Homo sapiens: one gene and its partner. The protein of the gene in region 1 purifies or fractionates together with the protein of each later gene. This does not show direct contact. Each region holds a gene or a part of one and is shown on either strand. Other genes may lie near its edges.

Evidence for each region. Proteins that work in one complex are often made in the same cells at the same time.
Region 2: the proteins of PPFIA2 (region 1) and SETD6 purify together in Homo sapiens (affinity purification with mass spectrometry; one large-scale study listed by BioGRID and IntAct). This does not show direct contact.

What each region holds. Positions count from the first base shown.
Region 1 is NC_000012.12:81,259,053-81,263,529, forward strand, and holds part of PPFIA2 (liprin-alpha-2), read right to left. Parts: intron 4,339-4,477; coding exon 4,179-4,338; intron 2,989-4,178; coding exon 2,930-2,988; 3' UTR 2,897-2,929; intron 2,159-2,896; exon of another isoform or gene 609-2,158; coding exon of another isoform or gene 580-608; 3' UTR 1-579. UniProt on the Homo sapiens protein: Alters PTPRF cellular localization and induces PTPRF clustering. May regulate the disassembly of focal adhesions.
Region 2 is NC_000016.10:58,513,313-58,518,561, reverse strand, and holds the start of SETD6 (N-lysine methyltransferase SETD6), read right to left. Parts: upstream 3,046-5,249; 5' UTR 3,025-3,045; coding exon 2,998-3,024; coding exon of another isoform or gene 2,772-2,997; coding exon 2,465-2,771; intron 2,361-2,464; coding exon 2,219-2,360; coding exon of another isoform or gene 2,114-2,218; exon of another isoform or gene 2,085-2,113; coding exon 1,890-2,084; intron 1,755-1,889; coding exon 1,634-1,754; intron 667-1,633; coding exon of another isoform or gene 655-666; exon of another isoform or gene 543-654; coding exon of another isoform or gene 512-542; coding exon 331-511; exon of another isoform or gene 330-330; intron 162-329; coding exon 19-161; intron 1-18. UniProt on the Homo sapiens protein: Protein-lysine N-methyltransferase. Monomethylates 'Lys-310' of the RELA subunit of NF-kappa-B complex, leading to down-regulation of NF-kappa-B transcription factor activity. Monomethylates 'Lys-8' of H2AZ (H2AZK8me1).

The sequences.
Region 1 (4,477 bases):
TCCGGTTCCAGGTTAAATCATTCTTTTTTACATGATCAGAGGCAGGTTGTTCAGCTTTAAGTATTGACAGACTTGAAGGAGAAACACGTTGAAGCATGAAACATGCTTCAAGGAAACATATTGATTTGACTATTAACAATCCAAAAACTGTAAAAATGGTGGAATGGTAAAATACAAACAGTACTTGGAATTGTCAAATGTTTGCACTCGAGACTCCATGAACCATATATTTTATTTTTTAAAAAATCATATTTATATCCATTTACATAAGACTTACACATTTAAAAAGAAATGCACGGTAATACATAAATGCCTAGTATATTACAATAAAACATGAAAAACAACTGGCTTCATTTCATAAAAGCATCTGTTGTACAGAGTTTATGATGTAGATGATGTTTATTATTCAAATGACTTAAGCATTTTATTACAATTTGTAGTAAACTAATCAAATGTAATATCTGACTCCCCCCAAAAATCACATTTTTCAGCTTTTAATAAGTCATGACGTCATTATTTCCTTAGAATTCAGTTTTCACAAAGGTTTTCACTGCTCGTCTTCTTAGATGGTAGTGCACTTTAGGTAGAGTAGACTGAAAAGACGCCATCTAAAATATACAATGGATAGCATTAGTTCACTGAAAAGTCCCAGACTGGGAAATCTCATTCTACTCCTCTGTGGTGTACCTCCACGCAGCCTGCTTACTCCTGTCCTAGAAGATCATGAGAAGGAAATCATCTAGGATGTAGCCAACAGCCGTATGTAATTAACATTTGCTTTTCTCCAATTTGGTGCAGGGGAGCTTAACAAATAATAGAATTTGCTCAACTTTGTGGAAAGTATGGCAGTAATGTAAACAAAGGTAGTTATGCAAAATGTTAGCATGCCTTCTGAAAAATTTACAACTTGCTAATTAATAAATTGGGTTGAATTGACCTATTTCATAATGTAGATTTATATTCTAGTTCATATATTTTAGAGTTCTTAAAAAATACCTTTATTTGTTACAAAAACATAACGATAATAAGTCACCTATTGTAAACGTTTGTGTCAGTAGTATGGCATTGCTGATTGTTTTCAGCCATAATGTACTTAGAAAAAGCTCACAATTGCTATTACTGACACAAAAGAAACAGCAAGTAGTATGCTCTGGATTATTTTAATATCAAAAGTGTTGTTGTTTCACCCAAACAAAAAATGGTTGTCCTAGATTGAATTATTGTAAATGAATACTGTTATCCCAATTAATGGTAAAAACTAGGAAATATGAACTAGAATGTCATGCACAAAAAACAGATTGCAAATAGAGTAACTCTACCCATCACTTAAGAGCTAAGAAGCAAGCACTATTGAACATATTAAATAGTCATTTGTAAATTAGTGAAGTGTTCATTTCCTGAAGAAATTATAATGCTATGTGTAGAATCTAATATAAACAGTATTTTGGGAGACCTCTTATTTAGCCAAATTATTATATACTTTAAATCATGTCTAATTAGGTGCCAAATTATATACCATAATTAAAATTTTAATGTAAGGGTTGTACATTCTGAAATTAAATCTCTTATCGGGATGCTTTTCATTTTATCAGCTTCAAATAGTGATCCAAATAAGGCAGCATATCTGCTCCCATCCTAAGCCCAAAAGACCAACAATAAATTGTGTGGCACTTTTAGTTCAAGGCAATGAAAACAGCACAAGGTGAGTTGTTCCTCTGTCTATAACTGTTTTCTCTTAACCCTGTGCACACATTTTGTTCTAAATATCGCTCTTAAAAAGTATTTTTCTAAAATATTGATTCATCGAAAGTGGTTAAATATTTTGGTAAAGCATAGTTTTAGGTTGAAAAAAAATTATGAACATTTGACATTTATAAATCTAAGAAACCACAGTTTTACTATTAAGACTGTTTTTCAATAAAACCTCATTTTTATATGGATTTTAAAGTAGCTTTCATTAATTGGTATTTCCTTAAAATCAAATGCTTGGTATTTATGGTTACATAGGAAGGTTTTGTGCTGGTCCTATTCTCCATTCTTAAAGTAATTTTATTTTGTTCCTATATGTCTTAAATACTTAAAATTTATATTTGTTTTTAGCAAGTGTAAATCAGATTGATAAGAAACAATGTAATAAAGGTTTGAATTTTTCACAGTTTCTACTATTTATTTATTGATTTATTTTAAGACGGAGTCATGCTCTGTCACCCAAGCTTGAGTGCAGTGGCACCATCGCTCACTGCAACTTCTGCCTCCCAGGTTCAAGTGACTCTCTTGCCTCAGCCTCCCAAGTAGATGGGATTATGGGAGTGCAACACCATGCCTGGCTACTTTTTGTGTTTTTAGTAGAGATGAGGTTTCACCATGTTGGCCAGGCTGGTCTCTAACTCCTGACCTGAAGTGATCCACCTGCCTCGGCAAGTTTCTATTTTTTAATATGAAACCATCTCTAAATCATTTTCCTGTCTGTTGCTATTTGACTCGGTGAACTTGCTTAAATCCCTATCCGCTACCTTGGCTTCCTTATATAAAATATACACTTAAAAAGATAGGATTTTTTAAAGTGCTGAATTATTATCAATAAAATGCTAAGTTACTCAACAGGAAATGGTACTAAAAAGTAGAAAACAGTGTAGTGGCAACCCATTGATGTGTAATAATACAGTGATAGGCCTCCAACAGGCAGACCTTAAACCACAGGAGACAGATGGTGATAGGAAATGCTAGACTAAGTGTTACAATATGAAGATTTCTTTTTCCCCTGAAGCAATTCAAAAGGGTTATCTCATTTCTGTACTGCTAGGGCATACCAAAGAGTATAGTGTATATTTATTAGTCTATGTAGGTTCCATTTTTTTGTCTTTTTTTTTTTGTCAGCCAAAGGGAAACTACTCACAGCAGGTCAGTGCTGCCTCCTTTGAGTGGCTGGTCAACATGAGTATGTGCGAACAGTGGAGTTGTCTAACCTCTGCAGTCTTGATGAAGCAACTGCAAATGGAGAAAAGGGCTTTAGAGGGACTTGGATGATTGAGTACAAGATTTCAGATGAGAAAGATTTATTTTCCCTGCATACAGGGATTCCGAACATATTAGTAGACCTTCTTTCTCTCAGATATAAGCCACTCACATTCCTCTTCTCTAGATCAAGTTCCTAATGAAAATTTATCCCAATGTAAATGACCTGAGCTTTTGAGTTGTTATGTATTCTTCCTTAGATAAAATCGGTAACAAGAGCAGCTCCCGAGGGTGCTTCTGATTTTGATATGGAGATTGCTCTTAGAGAACTCATTATAGTGGATTTTTTTTCCTTTCCAAGTATTGAAGAACTTCTACACTAATTGTAATGATGTTAAATTCCTCATGAATTTCGCTGACATGTTCCACCGTATTAACAAGTTGTAAGAAATGTAGATCAAGATCACAGTTTATGTTGGAACTAAATTTGAGTTATAATAACTGTGACCTTGACAAGAAATAATGATGCTAGGTGATTATCTTAACAAATAGCATGGGACTATTTTTCTTTAATGCCTCCCAAACAGAAATAATTTTGTGACTACTATTTCAAAGTTGTCTCTCCTCTGGAATGACTTTTCTTTTGTAAATTAGATAGCTTAAGTCTAATGTCCACAGAAGGAAATAGTAATTGGGAAATTACTGTGTTTTGTGTTTCTTTAATTCTCTTCTCATGTTCATGGCTTGTTTATTTAAGGGCTTCTGCTTTGGCTAGAGGGAAAAATATTTGATGAGTGAATTTCTAAGATGACATATAAAACTCGCAGTATTTAAACATGTAGGGAGACAGTGGAGTTAATTTCCATTTACTATGGATCTTTAGTCCAAGTCCAACCTCTAACTTAAACAAATTGTTAATTTTGGGAATAGAAGACTAAAGAAACACAAATCCTGCCGATGTTTATTGTTCCTCCTAGAGGTGGACATTAACCAAATTGTTCTTTTTGGGATGTTATAAATTATTTTGAAAATGTGAATAAAGTGCCATGAGTTCATGCAATAGCAGTGTAAAAAGGAGTCTGGTTTGTGATGAGAGCAAAGTAAATTTCAAGCAGAGCAAACCAACTCAAGAAAATAATTCCAAAAAGCAAGGTCAGAGAATTATACTAGCTTTGGCTAAACAAGCTTTTTGCTTGATAAGCAGCAATGCAAAACTACTGTACCATCTGTTGTCATTTTTCTTGACTGCCCAGAGGTTGTGGTTAACCTAAATCCAGCTGGTAATGTTTCTGAGGACCCAGGCATCATGCTGATTCCATGTACTTCACGAGGAGGAAACTGCCTTCTCCAGGTTGATCCACGTCTGAAGTTCTTGTCATCACTCTGCCAGTACAGTTATAAGGTGATGTTATGAAAACAAGTAAACTAGTCCATGTGCTTAAAGCTCTGTGCTTAGAAACATGTAACATAGATTATTTACATTTAGTCTGTCAAGTATACGTATGGAATCACGCTTTATCAA
Region 2 (5,249 bases), on another chromosome or scaffold:
CCATTTTCAGCCGTTTACCTTTAGTGTGGTGGTCAGCTCCTCTTCAGTCAGCACCTCCTCCCTCCCTATCACAAAGGCTCCCTCTTCCCCTACCATCTCCAGTTTGCATAGGAAATCCCAGCGCTCGTACACTAGGTGCCTTTCAGCTTCAGTTTTTGTTCCTGTAGATGAAACAGCAATGTGAAAGTCTCAGTACACCCAAGGGTTCATTTCTTCTTTAGTCTGCCACCCAGTCTACAAAGTCAACTGCTATTTAGCAAAGCTATTTAACCTGAGGCATGGGTATAGACACACCATCAGTGTCAAATATTGAGTTAATGATACACTCACCCTGTAATGCTGCCTCACGAACTGTCACCATCTGAATGTCAGCTGTGTCATCTGTGTTGTCAGGATATGGTTCAACAAAACCGTACATATGAATCAGTTGCCAGTTAGCCATTTGCCCATAAGTGTTGAAAATCTCATGGCCTTTAGGAATGGGCTGAGTGGCTACCATCCGAAGACAATTCTGAGGTGAAAGGGAGAAGCTGGGGCCATGCCTTTCACGGGCCAGCCCCATGAAGATTATTTCCACTTAAGAAGAGCCTTCAGCAGGTGTAGTTCAGCCATGACTGATGCTGTTAACTACCAAAGTTCTACCTTTAGTTCCTGTTAGACCCTAAACTGTGAAACAAAAAAGGGTTGGGCTAACTTTAAAAGGCCAGCTTCATGTTTAACTGGGTGGATTTCTGCACAGTCCTCTTCAGCACTTAAAAAGTTGCTAGCTTTAAAAACGAAATTTTCGGCCAGGCGCAGTGGCTCACACCTGTAATCCCAGCACTTAGGGAGGTCAAAGTGGGCAGATCACCTGAGATCAGGAGTTCAAGACCAGCCTGGCCAACACGGAGAAACCCCATCCCTACTAAAAAATACAAAAATTAGCCGGGCATGGTGGCAGGAGCCTGTAATTCCAACTACTCGGGAGGCTGAGGCAGGGAGAATTGCTTGAACCCAGGAGGCGGCAGTTGCAGTGAGCCGAGATCACGCCACTGCACTCCAGCCTGGGCGACACAGTGAGACTCCGCCTCGGGGGGGAAAAAATGGAACTTTCGCAGATCAAAGTGGGAAAGGAAAATGGAGGCAAGGATTAAGAAATAACCATACTTACTAATTTCTGATCCTATAAATGTGCCATCTTTTCAGGCTACTTTTTATATAGAATAGAGCTGGTATAAACACAGCTTTATATCAGTTCTAGGATCGTCTTAGACCTTTGGCCTGTGAATGTCCTCATCCCTCCAAAACACGGAGACTATCACTGTTCCAGGCTGCTATCCACAGAGCCACACACAGTCTGGGCTCACTGATGTGATCAGCCAGAAAGGAATGAAACATGGCTATGCAGACCACTCAATGTCTAGCACTAAATAAATGATGGTAGTATAGTTTATCAGAGGATTAACCACAACTTACTTTGAGGACTTTAAAATGTTTCGCATTCAAATGATTCTACAGTAATATGCATACTAAAAGGACATACAGGAGGAGCTGATTTCACCTACTCATTTTGTAGCACTAGTAAGAGAATGGAGCCTAAGACACAATGGCTTGAATCATGCTCAATCAGTGCACCAAGAGAAACTCCACTCACCGCAGAGTATTCTAGATTGGCGTTGTGATTGGCTAAGTGGTTTAGTATGTCTGCAGCAGGCACCATCACGGGGGAGTTGGGCTCCTTTTCATCCTCTTCTTCCTCCAGTGGTTCCTGAAAGCTGCCATTGACAGAACCTGGCTAAGGCCCTGTCTTGGGTGAGGGACTGGGGGTGGATTTCACTGTTTTTCCACTTTTGTCCCTCTATAGAGTTGTAAAGAAAAGGGTTCCGTCCTCAGAGGCCCCACCCACTGACCTATAGGCCATCACAAGGGCCACCAGCTGGTGGTAGAGTTCTAGGGAGCGAACCCTGAGGCTGAAGAGATCGGGGTGGGCTTCCATGAAGGGCAGCACGATGGACTGGTACTCGCTGCGGATGTTGGCCAAATCCTTCTCCACGGCCTCAGGTACGCCTGTGCCCTGGAGCAGGCACCGGCGCTCCTCCTCTGGCCTGCAGGGACACCCACACCCAGGTTCCCTTCATTCCTTCACACACTTTACTGGGTAGGACTGGTGCAGGGGCGGGGAAACTTCTTGCAGCAGGCTACGGTGCAGGCGCTCCCCAACCCCTCCCAAGGCTCTCACCAGAACATCGGGTGCTCCAAGCGGCCCAGCTCGGGCCAGAGCGCAAAGTAGGGCCTCCAGCGTGAGGCCGGGGCCTGCAGCTCGTGGAGCAGCGCCAGCAGCAGTGGCACCCAGCCCGACTGGCTCTGCAGCGCAACTCGCTCTGAGGAAGACACAGGTGTGAGCGCCCCGGCGCGGCCTCGCGGGCCGGGCCCGCCCCGCCCCGCCCCGCCCCGCCCCAGGGCCCTAGCCCGCCGCCGTGCCCACCTCGCTCCAGCAGGCCGCCGATGGAGCAGGTGTGCTGCGACAGGAGCGCGGCCCGCGGCACCACGAACAACAGCTCTCCGGCCTGCACGCTCTCCCGGGCCACCATGCCGTAGCCGGCCACCGTGCCCTGCCGGCTGACCGCCACCTGAGCAGGAGGGCTGGTCAGGGCAGCCCGCGCCCCGCCGCGGGTCCTCCGCCCGCCGGCTCGCTCGCTCACCTTGGGACTCAGCTCCAGCCCCACCCGCCGGCACCAGCTCAGGAAGCAGGCCACAGGATCCAGGTCGCCGCCGTCCACGGGCCCCGCCACCTGAGATAAGTGCGCGCAGTGACCAGGTCCGACCCCCAGAGAGGCCGCTGGGAACTGCAGGAGACCGCGGCGCGAGCGCAGAACGGGCTTTGGGTGGAGGAGGGGACGAGCGGAGAGGGGCGCGGGACCCGCGGGAGGGAGCGGAGGGGGCGCAGGCGGACGGTTCTGCGAACGGAGAAGGGGTGAGGCGCGGAGGAAAAGGCTGGACCCCGCGCCCGCCACTCACCCGTGGACGCTTCGCCTGGGTCGCCATGGTCTAAGAGCGCGTTTCCTCGCGGGCCGGCGCACCGCGCGGTCACTTCCGGCGTCTCTGGCCCCGCCCCGGCGCCGGAACCACGTGGTGCCTGTTTTGTCGTCCACGCTGCAGACTGGCCGGAGTTACCGCGGGCTGGAATCGTTCCTCATGAAAACATCTTGAGTCCAGGATCTCCAATTGCACTCACGCGCTGCGAGTGCAGAAGGAGAGTCCCGTGCCGCTTGGCGCCTGGTTCTGAGCCAGGTACAGCCCTGGCCTTCGGTCTGTCCCCGAGGGCTGAGGCTTCTTGCGGTCTGGGTGCAAGAACAAAATACGGTTTCTGGATCGGAAGCCGAGGGTCTGGTGGCCGGCCGGTGGTGAGCGACGCAACTGGGCGGCGAGCGACCTCCTGATCTCGACCCCTTGTTGCCGATGGCCATGGAACCCTTTTACTGGTGGTATTCGTTCAGAGCAGTTTTCGTGTGTGTTTCAGAGTGGCGTGGCCTAGAGGGCTCCTGGATCTAGAATAGATCCTCTCTGCCCTTATTTGCCAGTACATCCTCGTTTTTAATCTGCTGCATAGCACGTGGTGGGTTTTATTAGCTGACATAGTAGGGACTCAATATCTACCTATTGGGTAAATAAATGAATAAAACAAATGGTGGTTAAACCTGGGGAAGTAGCATGCTGTTAAATGTAAGAAAATGAGGCTGTGAATATAGAGGTTACAGGAATGGGTTTTGAAGCCAAGCAACGCCGCAGCTCAACACTCAGTTTTTTTTTTTTTTCCTTTTTTTTTTTTTTTTTTTTGGCGCGTTGGGGAGACGGGAGTCTCGCCCAGGCTGGAGTGCAGTGGTGCGATCTCGGCTCACTGCAACCTCCACCTCCCGGGTTCAAGCAATTCCCCTGCCTCAGCCTCCCAAGTAGCTGGGACTACAGGCGTACGCTGCCATGCCCAGCTAATTTTTTGTGTTTATTTTTAGTAGAGTCGGGGTTTCACCGCGTTGCCCAGGCTGGTCTCGAACTCCTGAGCTCAGGCAATCCCCCCGCCTCGGCCTCCCAGAGTGCTAGGATTACAGGCGTGAGCCACCGCGCGCGGCCTGGTCTGTTACTCAGGCAAATCCTTTTTCCTGAACCTTAGTCTCCTCACCTGCGAAACTAAGATAATACCTACTCTGTAGAATTAATGTAAGGATTGGTATGTTGACTAAAGAAAAAATATTAAGCTTTTAAATAATTAAAATTAGTTTTATTTAGAAGCCTTATTGAGGACTATAGACTGAGGCCTGTAGCCCAGGAGTAATCTTGTGAGGCTCCTCTAACACGGTATTTTAGTTTAGGTTATACATAGGTGAAGATTTAGTATGTGTAAAATCATATCAAAGTTTAGGGATAAGTATATCTGGTTATAGATTGCAGAGTATAATCATTAACCCTGTCAGACATGATCGTATGTTTAGGAGAAGGCAAAGAGTAGGTCATTTATCTTTGAAGGAATGTAGTGACTCAGGCAAGAGATTTGGAGGGCAGGGGTGTTTTGTTTTGTCTTTAAGGCATTTTTTTCTGGAGAGCTGTATTTTGTTTTTTTGTTTTATTTTGAGGCAGAGTCTTGCTCTGTCATCCAGGCTGGAGTGCAGTGGCACGATCTCCACTCACTACCACCTCTGCCTCCTAGGTTCAAGCGATTCTCCTGCCTCAGCCTCCCGAGTAGCTGGTATTACAGGCACGCGCCACCATGCTCAGCTAATTTTTGTATTTTTAGTAGAGACGGGGTTTCACCATGTTGCCCAGGCTGGTCTCGAACTGCTGGCCTCAAGTGATCTGCCCGCCTCAGCCTCCCAAAGTGCTGAGATTACAGGCTTGAGCCACCGTGCCTGGCTGAGGAGAGCTGTATTTTGTCACAGAGTCAGGGGAGAAATGAGCACATAAGCAGAAATGAGCACATAAGGCTTTTAATGTTTGTGACATTCTCATCTCACCGGTAAAATAATGTGACGTGTACTGGAAATAGAAAGATGGGTGGAGACCATCCTCTCCTAGCACCCTCAACCCAAAACCCAAGCAGCACCAGCAGCCCCTGCCCAAACATTCTGTTTCTCCAAAAGCCTCCCATGATGGGCATGGCATCACCACACTGGAATTCTTCTTAGGTTCTTTATTAGTTTTTCAGCACAGTTAACTCTTTCTACGTTGACTAGAGTTTTGTTTTACATTTTATCATCTCATGACAGCAGCCACCAGAA